3 linked regions of the Homo sapiens genome follow. The protein of the gene in region 1 purifies or fractionates together with the protein of each later gene. This does not show direct contact. Each region holds a gene or a part of one and is shown in the gene's direction. Other genes may lie near its edges.

Region 1 (3,500 bases):
AGACTGTGACTGCATGCCCTGCAGTGTACTAAATGCTTTATGTGTATTAACTGAGGTGATTTTCATAACAACTCTTTGGGTAGGTACATTTTCAGAGGAGAAAGCTGAGACACAGATTTGCCCAAGGTCACATAGTAAATAAGAACCGTAGCCAGGATTTGAACCCAGACAGTCTAGTTCTTGATGACCATGCTGCCCCTCCTCTCAAGGCCAGGATCCTGAGCACCTGCTTGACACATATCCGGGGCACCCCAGGAACTGTGCTAGCCACTGAAATGCAGTCCAAACACAAACAGGTGCAAGCCCTGCCCTCACAGCATTTCCAGCTCAGTAAGAAGCAGACATGAATCAAATAGTCACACGGACTTATAAATGCCAAGCTGTGTAAGTGCTAGAAGGGAAAAGTACCAGGTACCCTGGGCCCCTGCCTCTGCCTCAGCACCCCAGGAAGGCTTCTCTGAGGAAGTGACATTTCAGATGAAGATGAAAAATTAGCAGGGAAGAGGAAGGAAAAGGCATTGTAAGCAGAGGGAAAAGGTGCAGGAGCAGGAAGAAGCATGGAACTGAAAACGGCCAGTATGGCTAAGCTCAGAGAGAAAGGAGAGCCCACCAGCCTATTAGAGTATCCCAGAAAGCTACAGTGAGTGGAACAGGGGCCCACGCTGGCTGGAGGGGCAAGAAGGATGAGGGAAGACGGGCACCTATGTTGAGCCTTAAGGCATAGGCAAGATTTCACTGAGGCAGAGGTGGGCCAAGGGGAGGGAACAGAAGCAAAGGTATGGGATGAGGCAGAGTCACCAGGAGTGGAAGATGGGTACTCATGTGCCCAGGTGGATGCAGGAGGAGAAGCTCAACCCTATCCTCACTTAGCCTTTGCCATTGGTGAGGCCGGAGGGAAAGCAGCGTTGACAGTGTCAGTGTGTGTGAGTGTGTGTGTGTGCACGCACTTGCCAGCACATGCTGAGGTGCAGTTTGAAAGATGTGTAGAGGGGAAGAAGAAGCAAGCTTGCAGAGTTGAGCTTTCCTGTGGCTGAGCATCCACAGGGAGGGTAACTAGAATGTTGGGGGTGGTATTTTGGGTGGAGAGTGAGGGTGAGGATGTGATATTGGTGGGTCTGTTCTCCATAGAATCATGTGATTGCAGTGTCACCATCGAGTTCTTTCCAAAGTGCTCATATTACCTCTTTGTATTTGCTCTATCTGATGAAAAACTTACCATCTGTACACCATTGCAGAACACATAGAGCCATAACTTCTGTTTCACCATTTGAAGAGGTGATTCTTTATTCTTGACAGTTCTGTCCCCTTTCTGACAGCTGTCATGTTTCCAGCCCTTTGGAAACTGAGAGGTGCACATGATCTCCTGTCCTCTCCGTCCCCCGGTGCTATGCTTATGGTGAAGCATAAGCTGAGCCTGGTTTGAGAGGATCTTGGCAGGAAAGGCTTTGGGGCCTCAGAGCTCTGTAATTCCACCTTCTTAAGTGGGTGGATGTCATTTAATCCTGGCCCAAGTGTGGCTGGCACAGTTCAGCTTCTTGAAGAAAGATGGCAGCACATCACACAGGTGTTAGAAATGATACAGTCCATGGGCCTTCACTTGAGCTGGCTCCGTCACAGCAGCCCTCTGAAGTGGGTGGAATTCAAGTGAAAAAACCCAGCCTTGGGGAGACAGAAGGACTTTCCCACATTCCCACAGCTAATAAGTGGTAAGAGAGTCATCATTGCTTCCACTCTACATCCCGTGGTACCTAATAGACACTTAATGGACCTTGTATGAATGAATCGATGAATGGTCTAGAGTTGGTGTCATGAGTAAAACTAATTTGGGCTGGCAATGAAATTGTTGACATGTTGTGTGTGGGTGTGTGGGTGTGTGTCCCCTTCCCATCCTCTCCTCCGAGTTAGGATCATAATGGACTCCTGCTGGTCACCAGGTCCCGCCATGACTGTTTTGAAAATGTCTGCCAGCTCATCTCTTTTTCTCCATCCTCACTGTCATCTTGGTTCATGCTCTTGTCGAGTCTCATCATGACCAGGATGACATTCTTTTAAGTGGCTCTTCTGCTTCCAGTCTTGTCTGCTTTTGTCTGTCCCCACAATGCCACTGGAAGTAACTTCCTAAACCAATTTGGATTACATGAGTGTTCCACTTAAATACTTTCCCAGCTCCCTGTCACCTGCCAAATACAGTCCAAATTCCTAAGACATTCATTTCAAAGTGTTATAATTAATTGCCTCCCTCCCCAAATGGACTGTGAATTGCCCAAAGACACAACCATATCTAAGTCATGGTTGTCTTTTCAATACCTGGTATGGTATGAGGCACAGGATAGTTGCTGACAAACATTTGTTAGCTAATTATCATGTGCTGGGGGAGTTGGAGGGAGATTGAACCAATAAAGGGAAATTTGGGTACTTCTGAATGTGCCCTCTGATGAGGGACTGCCTGTGTCCCTCCTCAGAGGCTGTCCCAAGAGAAGCAGACCTCAGATTCTGACAGCGTGGGTGTGGGTGACAACTGTTCTACCCTTGGCCGCCGGGAGACCTGTGATCACGGTAGGAGCCTCTGGGGGCTCAGGCTGGGGAATGCTGGAACTGGGCCGGGCCTTGCCCATGGGCACACAGCGGCAGAGCAGGTTCTGACCATTCTGTAGACCTGGGTAAGGTGACCTGGCCTGCCATCCCTGGAGCTGCAGGCCCATCCTGTATGCAGGCTGAAAAGGCCACAAGGAAGACTAAGGATGGGTGGGACTCAGGGCTCCCTCCACTCCCCTGACCCATTTCCCCAACAGGCAAAGGGAAGAAGAGCAGCCTGGCAGAACTGAAGGGCTCAATGAGCAGGGCTGCGGGCCGCAAGATCACCCGTATCATTGGCTTCTCCAAGAAGAAGACACTGGCCGATGACCTGCAGACGTCCTCCACCGAGGAGGAGGTTCCCTGCTGTGGTGGGTCCAGGGCACGGGGAGGAAGGGTGCTCAGGTCCTGTGTGCGCGGGCTTTGGGGGCTGAGGCCAGGAGACCTCATGCCTCGTCCACCTCACCCCCAGGGCAGGGGAGGGAATCCAAGCCTACTGGGAGGCTAAGCCCCACTCCATTAACACTCTAGGCCTTCCCATCACTTTCCTTCCCAGAGGCCCTGACACTCAACGAAAGGAAAAGCCAGCTGACCACTGTATTTCTATGCTCCCTGTGACCGTAGCCCAAATCACTGCCCATCCCTGGGCCTCAGTTTCTCAGTTTCCTCCACGATAACAAGACAGGGGTATCTTATTTTCCAGCATAGAACGTGCCAGGTTTATAAGTAACAACCCATATTATAGGGAAATTTATTGGAGAAAAATATTTAGGTACTTTTTATTAAAAATGCATTCAATGTGAATTAAAGGTGATTTGAAGGTGAAAACATTATTTTGCTCATGTAAATGTAGCGTTCCATGTACTGGAATCCAGTTTTTAAAAATCGTATATTTTGGATATGCAGTAATATTCTAACCCTGAAAA
Region 2 (3,500 bases), on another chromosome or scaffold:
CTCAGTATTCCCAGCAGTCTGCATAGGGTCTGGTACGCGGTGATGTCAGAGAGCGAGTATTGTGAGAGTAAATCCTATGACCGTGAGAATGGTTGCTGCCCACTTACGGAGTCTGGATGCTGTGTTTGCTCCATTGTGGAAAGACCAACTAGTGGTCTTCCTGTGGAGGAACAATAACTCCCTTAAAAGAATTTAGCCATTTTGAATTGGAGCCTCAGAAAGGGGCTCAGATGATTCATTGTGCTGTTTTCTCTTCACTGTACCCCCTGGAACCTGGCTGTACCTAGCCCATATAAGAAGCAGTCAGAGCCCTGTCATGCCTCTAGTTTGAGCAAAGTATCTTTTGTGACTTTGCTAAGAGTTGTTATTAGCAGCAACAATGAAGAGGATTATGTGAAGTCACGTGACTACTTGGCACACTTTAGCCCTGAGTGGCCTCTCCTTCTGACAGGGCGTCCTGGTGCAGGGGCTGCCTGGGTGAAGCCCCACATGCTATTATGCTTCTTTCTTATGTGGAGGAGTTGCCCAAAGCAGGTCCAGGGGAGAGCAGATTGAATGTTAATGACTTGGTATTAACCACTTTTTCCTCCCTCTCCTTTCTTGGCAGGACTGCTGTTTATGCTCATTACGAGGAGGGGCCCTGCAGAGAGCAAATGATGACAGGTAAGTTTCCTGAGCAGTGCCTTGGAATGCACAGGCTCAGTTCCGAAGCACACAGTGTCTTTGTGAGGGTACTAGCTGTTCTTCTGAATGACTGATGAGGATTTGGGAAGCACATCGTGTGGAGCAGGAATAGCATCTCCAAGACTCATTTTAAAAATGGAATGCTAAGGGAGCCAAGCAGTCCCAGACTTTCCAACTCCAGCTGCTCCTCTGCAGCAGAGATGTCAGTGACATCCTCCTTTGGAGAAGCTAAGAATGGACTCATGAGAATATGAAGACGAAGATGATGCGCAGGGACTGTGTGGGCTGGAGTGAGGACATTCACCTTGTCACAGCTGGGGCTGGTATGCAGAGGCGGCCACAGGCTAGCAAGCACTTCTCCACATGGCAAACTCCCTGGCTCAGACCTGCTGTTTGGAATGAGGCGAGTGTGCTCAAGGAGGACACTGAGGAGAGCTCAGACAGGCCCACCCACTATGGAACCGAATCTGCTGAATTTTCTGGGCTTCTCAGCTGTTGGGCAGCTCGTTTTCATGGAGTGAATCTTTGTGCTTAGGCTTGTGTTTGGTTGCTCTGAGGTGGAAACGTAAGATGAATGAGGTTTCTGACCTGGAAGAGCTAGCTGTCTAGGGCATGGTGCGTGCAGGTCAGTGCTGAGTATCCTGCTTCCAAGTAGAATCCCGTGGCAACTTGCAGCATATGTTCAGTCCAGCCGCCTGCCCTCAAGAGTCCCAGTTATGCTGTCCCTGAGAGATAGCTACTCTGCCTGCTGCTTCTGCTCCTTCAAAGGCACTTGCTGCCATTATTTGAGGTCACTGGGTTCCTCACAGTCACAGGATAGTGCTGGGAACATTCTTTCTTATTTGGAGTGGAAATGGCTGTGCTTGAATCTCTCACCTTTACCTCTGAATGCCTGTTCTGCCCTCCAGGGCCACACAGAACAAATCTGTTCCCACTCTAAAAAGACAGCCCCACTAGAACTGCAGAGAGCTTCCATGGAGCCCCAGTGTTGTCTGGTGTAGGTTTTCACGTAGCATGGTTTTAAGAGTTGTCACCATTTTCGTTCTTCTCCTCTTGATGCATGCTGGTTTCCCAAAATGTCCAAAACTTACTTTAATTCTTAAGGATGTCCGTTGAATAGACCTCTCAGAGTAAGTGGGGCTTGGGTCAGACCTTAAAGATTAAAGAGTGAGTCAGCTATGGAAAAAGGGAGCAGAAGGGAGAGGTCATTTCAGCCTGGGGGAGAGGTTTGGGCAGAGGCCGAGAGAGAGCTGTGATTACTGGCAGATTAGGGCACAGCCGGGGACGTTTTCAGGAAGCACTTGGGTCCTATGGTAAAGAGGTCTGCATAGAGCTTTCCAGTTTATTCTCACTCCCTGAGACCTGCCACACACCATTAGCCTGCAGCTCTGTTCATTTTTCAACAGAGTGGTGTAAGAAGCATGATCCGGTGCTAACCTAGGGCAGTGGGCAGTGGCCTAGGTGGGCAGTGGGGGTGGCACTGCTTCCACATACTCAGAGGAGAGACGGTTCTGGTTCTCACCTTCCTGGGTCCCAGGCATGTGCTGGTGGAAGTCAGTGGTCACCCAGGTGAGGGAGGAAGCGCTGTCAGCAGGCCCAAAAGAGAAGGCCACAGAGCCTTGGGCCCAGAGGTGACTGAGGGAGCCTTTGCCTTTTGGCAGGTGGGTCCACGTTTCATGTGCTGTGGCAATTCTGGAAGCAAGGTTTGTCAACATTGCAGAAAGAAGTCCGGTGGATGTGAGCAAAATCCCCCTGCCCCGCTTCAAACTGGTAAGGGCTTGTAGACTCTACATAATTTCCCGACTTACAAGTTTCTGGGTAGAAGAGAACAGGGACCTCCTGTACCCCTTGGTTTTGGTTAGAGTTTGTGATTCTCACTCTGTGGTTAGATTCCTTAGTGGAGGCCAGGTGTGGTGGCTCACACCTGTAATCCCAGCCCTTTGTGGGGCCGAGGTGGGTGAACCACTTGAGGTCAGGAGTTCAAGACCAGCCTGGGCAACATGGTGAAACCCCGACTCTACTAAAAATATAAAATTAGCTGGGAGTGGTGGTGCGCACCTATAATCCCAGCTCCTCGGGAATCTGAGGCAGGAGAATCACTTGAACCCGGGAGGCGGAGGTTGCAGTGAGCCGATATTGTGTCACTGCACTCCAGCCTGGGTGACAGAGCAAGACTCCGTCTCAAAAAAAAAAAAAAAAAAATTTCCTTGGCAGATAAAGTTGTAACCAGACCTGGATTAGAGCAGGCTGGTGTGTCCTTGTATTTTGGGAAGGGGCTGGCTCTTGCTTGCTTGGCTTTGCATTTGGGAGGGGAACAACAGAGGAAGCTGCAGTGCCAGTTCCTGCAATCACTGGTTTTCTTCCCCTGTGCTACAGAAATGTATCTTCTGTAAGAAGCGGAGGAAAAGAACTGCTGGCTGCTGTGTGCAGTGTTCTCACGGCCGCTGCCCAACTGCCTTCCATGTGAGCTGCGCCCAGGCTGCCGGTGTGATGATGCAGCCTGACGACTGGCCTTTTGTGGTCTTCATTACCTGCTTTCGGCACAAGATTCCTAATTTGGAGGTGAGAGAGGGTGTCATTCTAGAATCCTCTTGACAGTTTTCATGGTCATTTTCTCTGCATGTTTTCCATTTGTTGTATCAGCAACTATTTCCTCAAGCATTCTGCATTATGAAGAGTGCTAATGAGTTAAGAGATTGAGAGGTGGCCCCTGTCCATCTCCACTCCCTGCCTTGTACTCCATAAGCCAGTGACACCAAACTGCTTGTAGTTGATTCGTTTTGATTATCTCTTTACTTGTCTGCCTCTCCATCAGA
Region 3 (4,067 bases), on another chromosome or scaffold:
CATTGAGGGTGGGCCTTAATCCAACACGACTGGTGTCCTCATAAGAAGAGGCAATTTAGATATGGAAAGGTACACAGGAGGATCATGTAAAGACACAGGGAGAAGATGGTCCCACAGTGGCTCCACAAGAAACCAACTCTGCTGACTTGTGGCCTCCAGAATTGTGAGAAAACAAATTTCCATTTAAGCCACCCAATCTGTGGTAGTTTTGTTCCTGGACCAAACTGAGGGTCAGGCTGCTATTTCTTGCTGCCAATAATGAGATGTCGATGAACTGGGGATGAAGAAAGTTTTTATTTCTGTAACCAGTTACAGGCAGAAGGCCTGGAAATTATCACCAGACCAACTCAAAATTACAAAGTTTTTCAGAGTTTATATACCTTATAAGCTATATGTCTACATGTAAGTGTACATTCCTCTGAAGATATAAATGTTTCTTTATCAGCATTTGGAACATGCCAGGCAAATAGTAAACACTCAATATCATCTACCATCAGCCTCAGCCTGGGGCCTCACACCCATCTTCTTTTATCTAAAATTCTGAATTAGCTATGAATATTCTCATTTTACGAATGAGGAAAGAAATGTGATCTGAGCTAATGCCTTGTGTCAACAGGTATATTACACTAAGATGGAGAATGATATACTGAATCTGTGTTTGCCTTTAACGTGTGTTTAACTTCGAGAAAAAAGCCAAGGCTGGGCGGTCGCAGTCACGCTGCATCCGGCGACAGGGGGCGGTGTGTCCTGCGAAAAGTCAAAACGCCGGAAGCTGCCCTTAGTGTTTTTCAGCCTCTTGGTCTTAGGGAAAGTGAGGCCGTGTTTTACATCCAACATATTATTATTCTGATAATATGTGACTTGGCGCCACGCGCACTCTGCACTTAAACACGCACTTAAGGGATAAACACATACGACTGAAAAAGAGTTTCGCCCTTGATAGGCAGTGTATGGGGTGCGCAGCTGCAATCTGCAAACCCTTGCAGGGCGCGGGGTTTCGTACACCCGCTCAAGGACGCAAAGAACCTCCATTCTCTGCCATACAAAGCACTCCTGGCCCAGAGAGCAGGAAAGAGCATCAGCTAGGCCCAGCTAGGCGGCGCCCTCGGCCGGACTCTGAAGGTCAGGGCCGCTGGGCGTCCACGCCGCCTGGGTCCCAGTCCCCGTCCCATCCCCCGGCGGCCTAGGCAGCGTTTCCAGCCCCGAGAACTTTGTTCTTTTTGTCCCGCCCCCTGCGCCCAACCGCCTGCGCCGCCTTCCGGCCCGAGTTCTGGAGACTCAACATGAAGCTACCGGCCAGGGTTTTCTTTACTCTGGGGTCCCGGCTGCCCTGTGGCCTCGCTCCTCGGAGGGTAAGGCGGCCGGGGGCGCGGGGAGCGAGGACAGGGCGTCTCGACGCGCAAAGAGAGAGGACAGGGCGTCACGGGGGCTCGGGGAGCGAGGACAAGGCATCCTGGGGCGCAAAGAGAGAGGACAGGGCGTCCCGGGGGTTCGGGGAGCGAGGACAGGGCATCCCGAGGCGCAGAGAGAGAGAGGACAGGGCGTCCCGGGGCCTCGGGGAGCGAGGACAGGGTGTCCCGGGGCTCAAAGAGAGAGGACAGGGCGTTCTGGAGCGCTAAGAGAGCACAGAGCAACCCGGGGAGCGAGAGAGAGGACAGGACGTCTCGGGGCGCAAGAGAAAGGGCAGGAAGTCTTGGGGCACAAAGAGAGGACCCGGCGTCCCTGGGGCTCAGGGAGCTAGGACAGGGCGTTTTGGGGCGCAGAGAGAGAGGACCACCAGGTCCCGGAGCGAAGGGCAACGCCGGGAGTGAGCACCGGGGCCCGGGTCGTATTCCACTGTCAGATGAAGCCCTGATGTGTGTAGGGGAATAGGGAAGAGACGTGATTTTCGAAGTTTTCACAGTTCTGCAAGTTTCCAACTTGTGTGTAAATAGGTAGAAAGAGGTAGGGAAGGATACGGCGCCCGTCCACCCCTTAAGGAGTGAGAGGGGATCAGGCCGAGCGAGCACTGACCTTTGACGTCCTTTGTTGTGAGGAAAGTCCATCTATGTGTTAGTTATGGAATTAAACACTAATACAAACAAATTATCATAAAAATGAAACAAAAACAAAACCCCAGCTGTTTATAGACTCCCCTTCCCAGATGTATAGCTGGGAGAGGTCCGTCTCACACTGGCTTCCCCCTCTCTCTGGCCCACACTCCTGTCACCATCTCCATTGCACCCATAGTGGAAATAGCTAGGAAGTGAAAACAGCTAGGAAGAAGAAAGAGAAACAAAAACAAAAAGAAGCAATAATATCCAAGACAAGCCCTCCCCACATCTAAATTACAAAATTGTTATAAGTAAACTAAAAAGCACATTTTCTTTAGCCAGGTAGAAAAATTAATATGTCAACTGTGAAAAAACTTCTTTTGATTTGATAGAATAGACAGCCATGGTGTTGTTTTTCAAAAAATATGGGCAGCAGTAGTTCCAAATAGGAATACAAAGAATTAGTATGGTGGTTCCCTCAAGTAAGGTATCTTTCTTTTAAAAAGTGAGATTTGTTCAGGGTTAGGGTTTTGCTGATTTTTTTTCTCTCCCTGTGAAAACTGGGTTATAGATCATTATAAAGGAAGCCCATATTTTCTGATACTTTTCAGAGACATTTCTCATTTGAAATCTACAACAGCTCTGTGATGTCTTCAGAGATTTCATTTTTTAACACACATCATTAGGATTGTAGCAATAAGGTCATACAGACCTTATCCAAGCTCTTCTGACACCATTAGACAATACAGTTTGAGAAGGAGAAAATGAACTCATTTAAAAATTAATTGTAATCTGACAATTTTGAAATTCCTTTGCTGAAGAAAAATATGGAAGTTTTGAGGTTCAGGGTTGGGAGGCAAGAGAGGTACCTGTTAGTGTGGTTTGTCCCCTTCCTAGCACATGTAGCCTCAAGTTTGAATTCCTGGGAGAAGAAAAGTCTTTACATCTGTGATGTGGGAGGTTGTTCCAGGGAACATCATGTTTTTGTGGGCAAATACAAGTTGTTATAATTAAAACCCCTAATTTGAATATTTTTGTTACCAAGAACCAAGGCAAATGTTTAATTTGTTATAAAACCTGTTTGTGAAGTGCTGTGTTAAATTGTGCTGCTGGCTAATAGGCCTCATTTCAATTTAATAAATATTTATTGAGGACTGGCTTTATGTCTGGCCCTGTGCTATGCCCTGGGACTCAAAATTTAAAAAATACGAGCCCTGCTCTCAACTGTTCTCAAGTTGCTCTCAGTTCTATTGAGGAAAACATTCAGTCATTCAGTTGTTTATGAGGAAACACTAATTAATTAAGTACCTATTAAGTATTGGGCATTCTTTGGCAATTTGTGGTTGAAAGACATTCCTGCCTTCAATGTACTATAGTCTCATATATGTATTTTAAGCCACAAATAATAACCAATGAGTAGGCCTTGAAATCAATTTAGTGGAGCAAAACAGCACTTTGGGAGGCTGAGGCGGGTGGATCATTAGATCAAGAGATCAAGACTATCCTGGCCAACATGGTGAAACCCTGTCTCTAGTAAAAATACAAAAATTACTGGGTGTGGTTTCACACGCCTGTAGTCCCAGCTACTTGGGAGGCTGAGGCAGGAGAATCGCTTTAACCTGGGAGGCAGAGGTTGCAGTGAGCTGAGGTCGCGCCACTGTAGTCCAACCTGGCGATAGAGTGAGTGAGACTCCATCTCAAAAACAAAAAAATGGAATAGAATAGGATATATCTAAATTCATCTCATGTAGTAAGGTTGTTCATTTTGTGAAACTTTAAAAAAAAAATTTACCATTCTTCCTTTTTTGATTCATTCTTTGATTACTATCATGCACACTGCCATGTTTCTTTTCCTTTTGTTTTTATCAAGAGTAATAACTATCCAACCTGATCAACATGGTGAAACCCTGTCTCTACTGAAAATATAAAAATTAGCCGGGCGTGGTGGCGCGTGCCTGTAATCCCAGCTACTCAGGAGGCTGAGGCAGGAGCTACTCAGGAGGCTGAGGCAGGAGAATCACTTGAACCTAGGAG

The links.
Region 2: the proteins of AFAP1L1 (region 1) and KDM4A purify together in Homo sapiens (affinity purification with mass spectrometry; one large-scale study listed by BioGRID and IntAct). This does not show direct contact.
Region 3: the proteins of AFAP1L1 (region 1) and DECR1 purify together in Homo sapiens (affinity purification with mass spectrometry; one large-scale study listed by BioGRID and IntAct). This does not show direct contact.

Annotation. Positions count from the first base shown.
Region 1 is NC_000005.10:149,313,359-149,316,858, forward strand, and holds part of AFAP1L1 (actin filament-associated protein 1-like 1), read left to right. Parts: intron 1-2,462; coding exon 2,463-2,556; intron 2,557-2,792; coding exon 2,793-2,945; intron 2,946-3,500. UniProt on the Homo sapiens protein: May be involved in podosome and invadosome formation.
Region 2 is NC_000001.11:43,691,649-43,695,148, forward strand, and holds part of KDM4A (lysine-specific demethylase 4A), read left to right. Parts: intron 1-607; coding exon 608-663; intron 664-2,345; coding exon 2,346-2,454; intron 2,455-3,060; coding exon 3,061-3,246; intron 3,247-3,500. UniProt on the Homo sapiens protein: Histone demethylase that specifically demethylates 'Lys-9' and 'Lys-36' residues of histone H3, thereby playing a central role in histone code. Does not demethylate histone H3 'Lys-4', H3 'Lys-27' nor H4 'Lys-20'.
Region 3 is NC_000008.11:90,000,210-90,004,276, forward strand, and holds the start of DECR1 (2,4-dienoyl-CoA reductase [(3E)-enoyl-CoA-producing], mitochondrial isoform 1 precursor), read left to right. Parts: upstream 1-1,267; 5' UTR 1,268-1,283; coding exon 1,284-1,352; exon of another isoform or gene 1,353-4,067. UniProt on the Homo sapiens protein: Auxiliary enzyme of beta-oxidation. It participates in the metabolism of unsaturated fatty enoyl-CoA esters having double bonds in both even- and odd-numbered positions in mitochondria.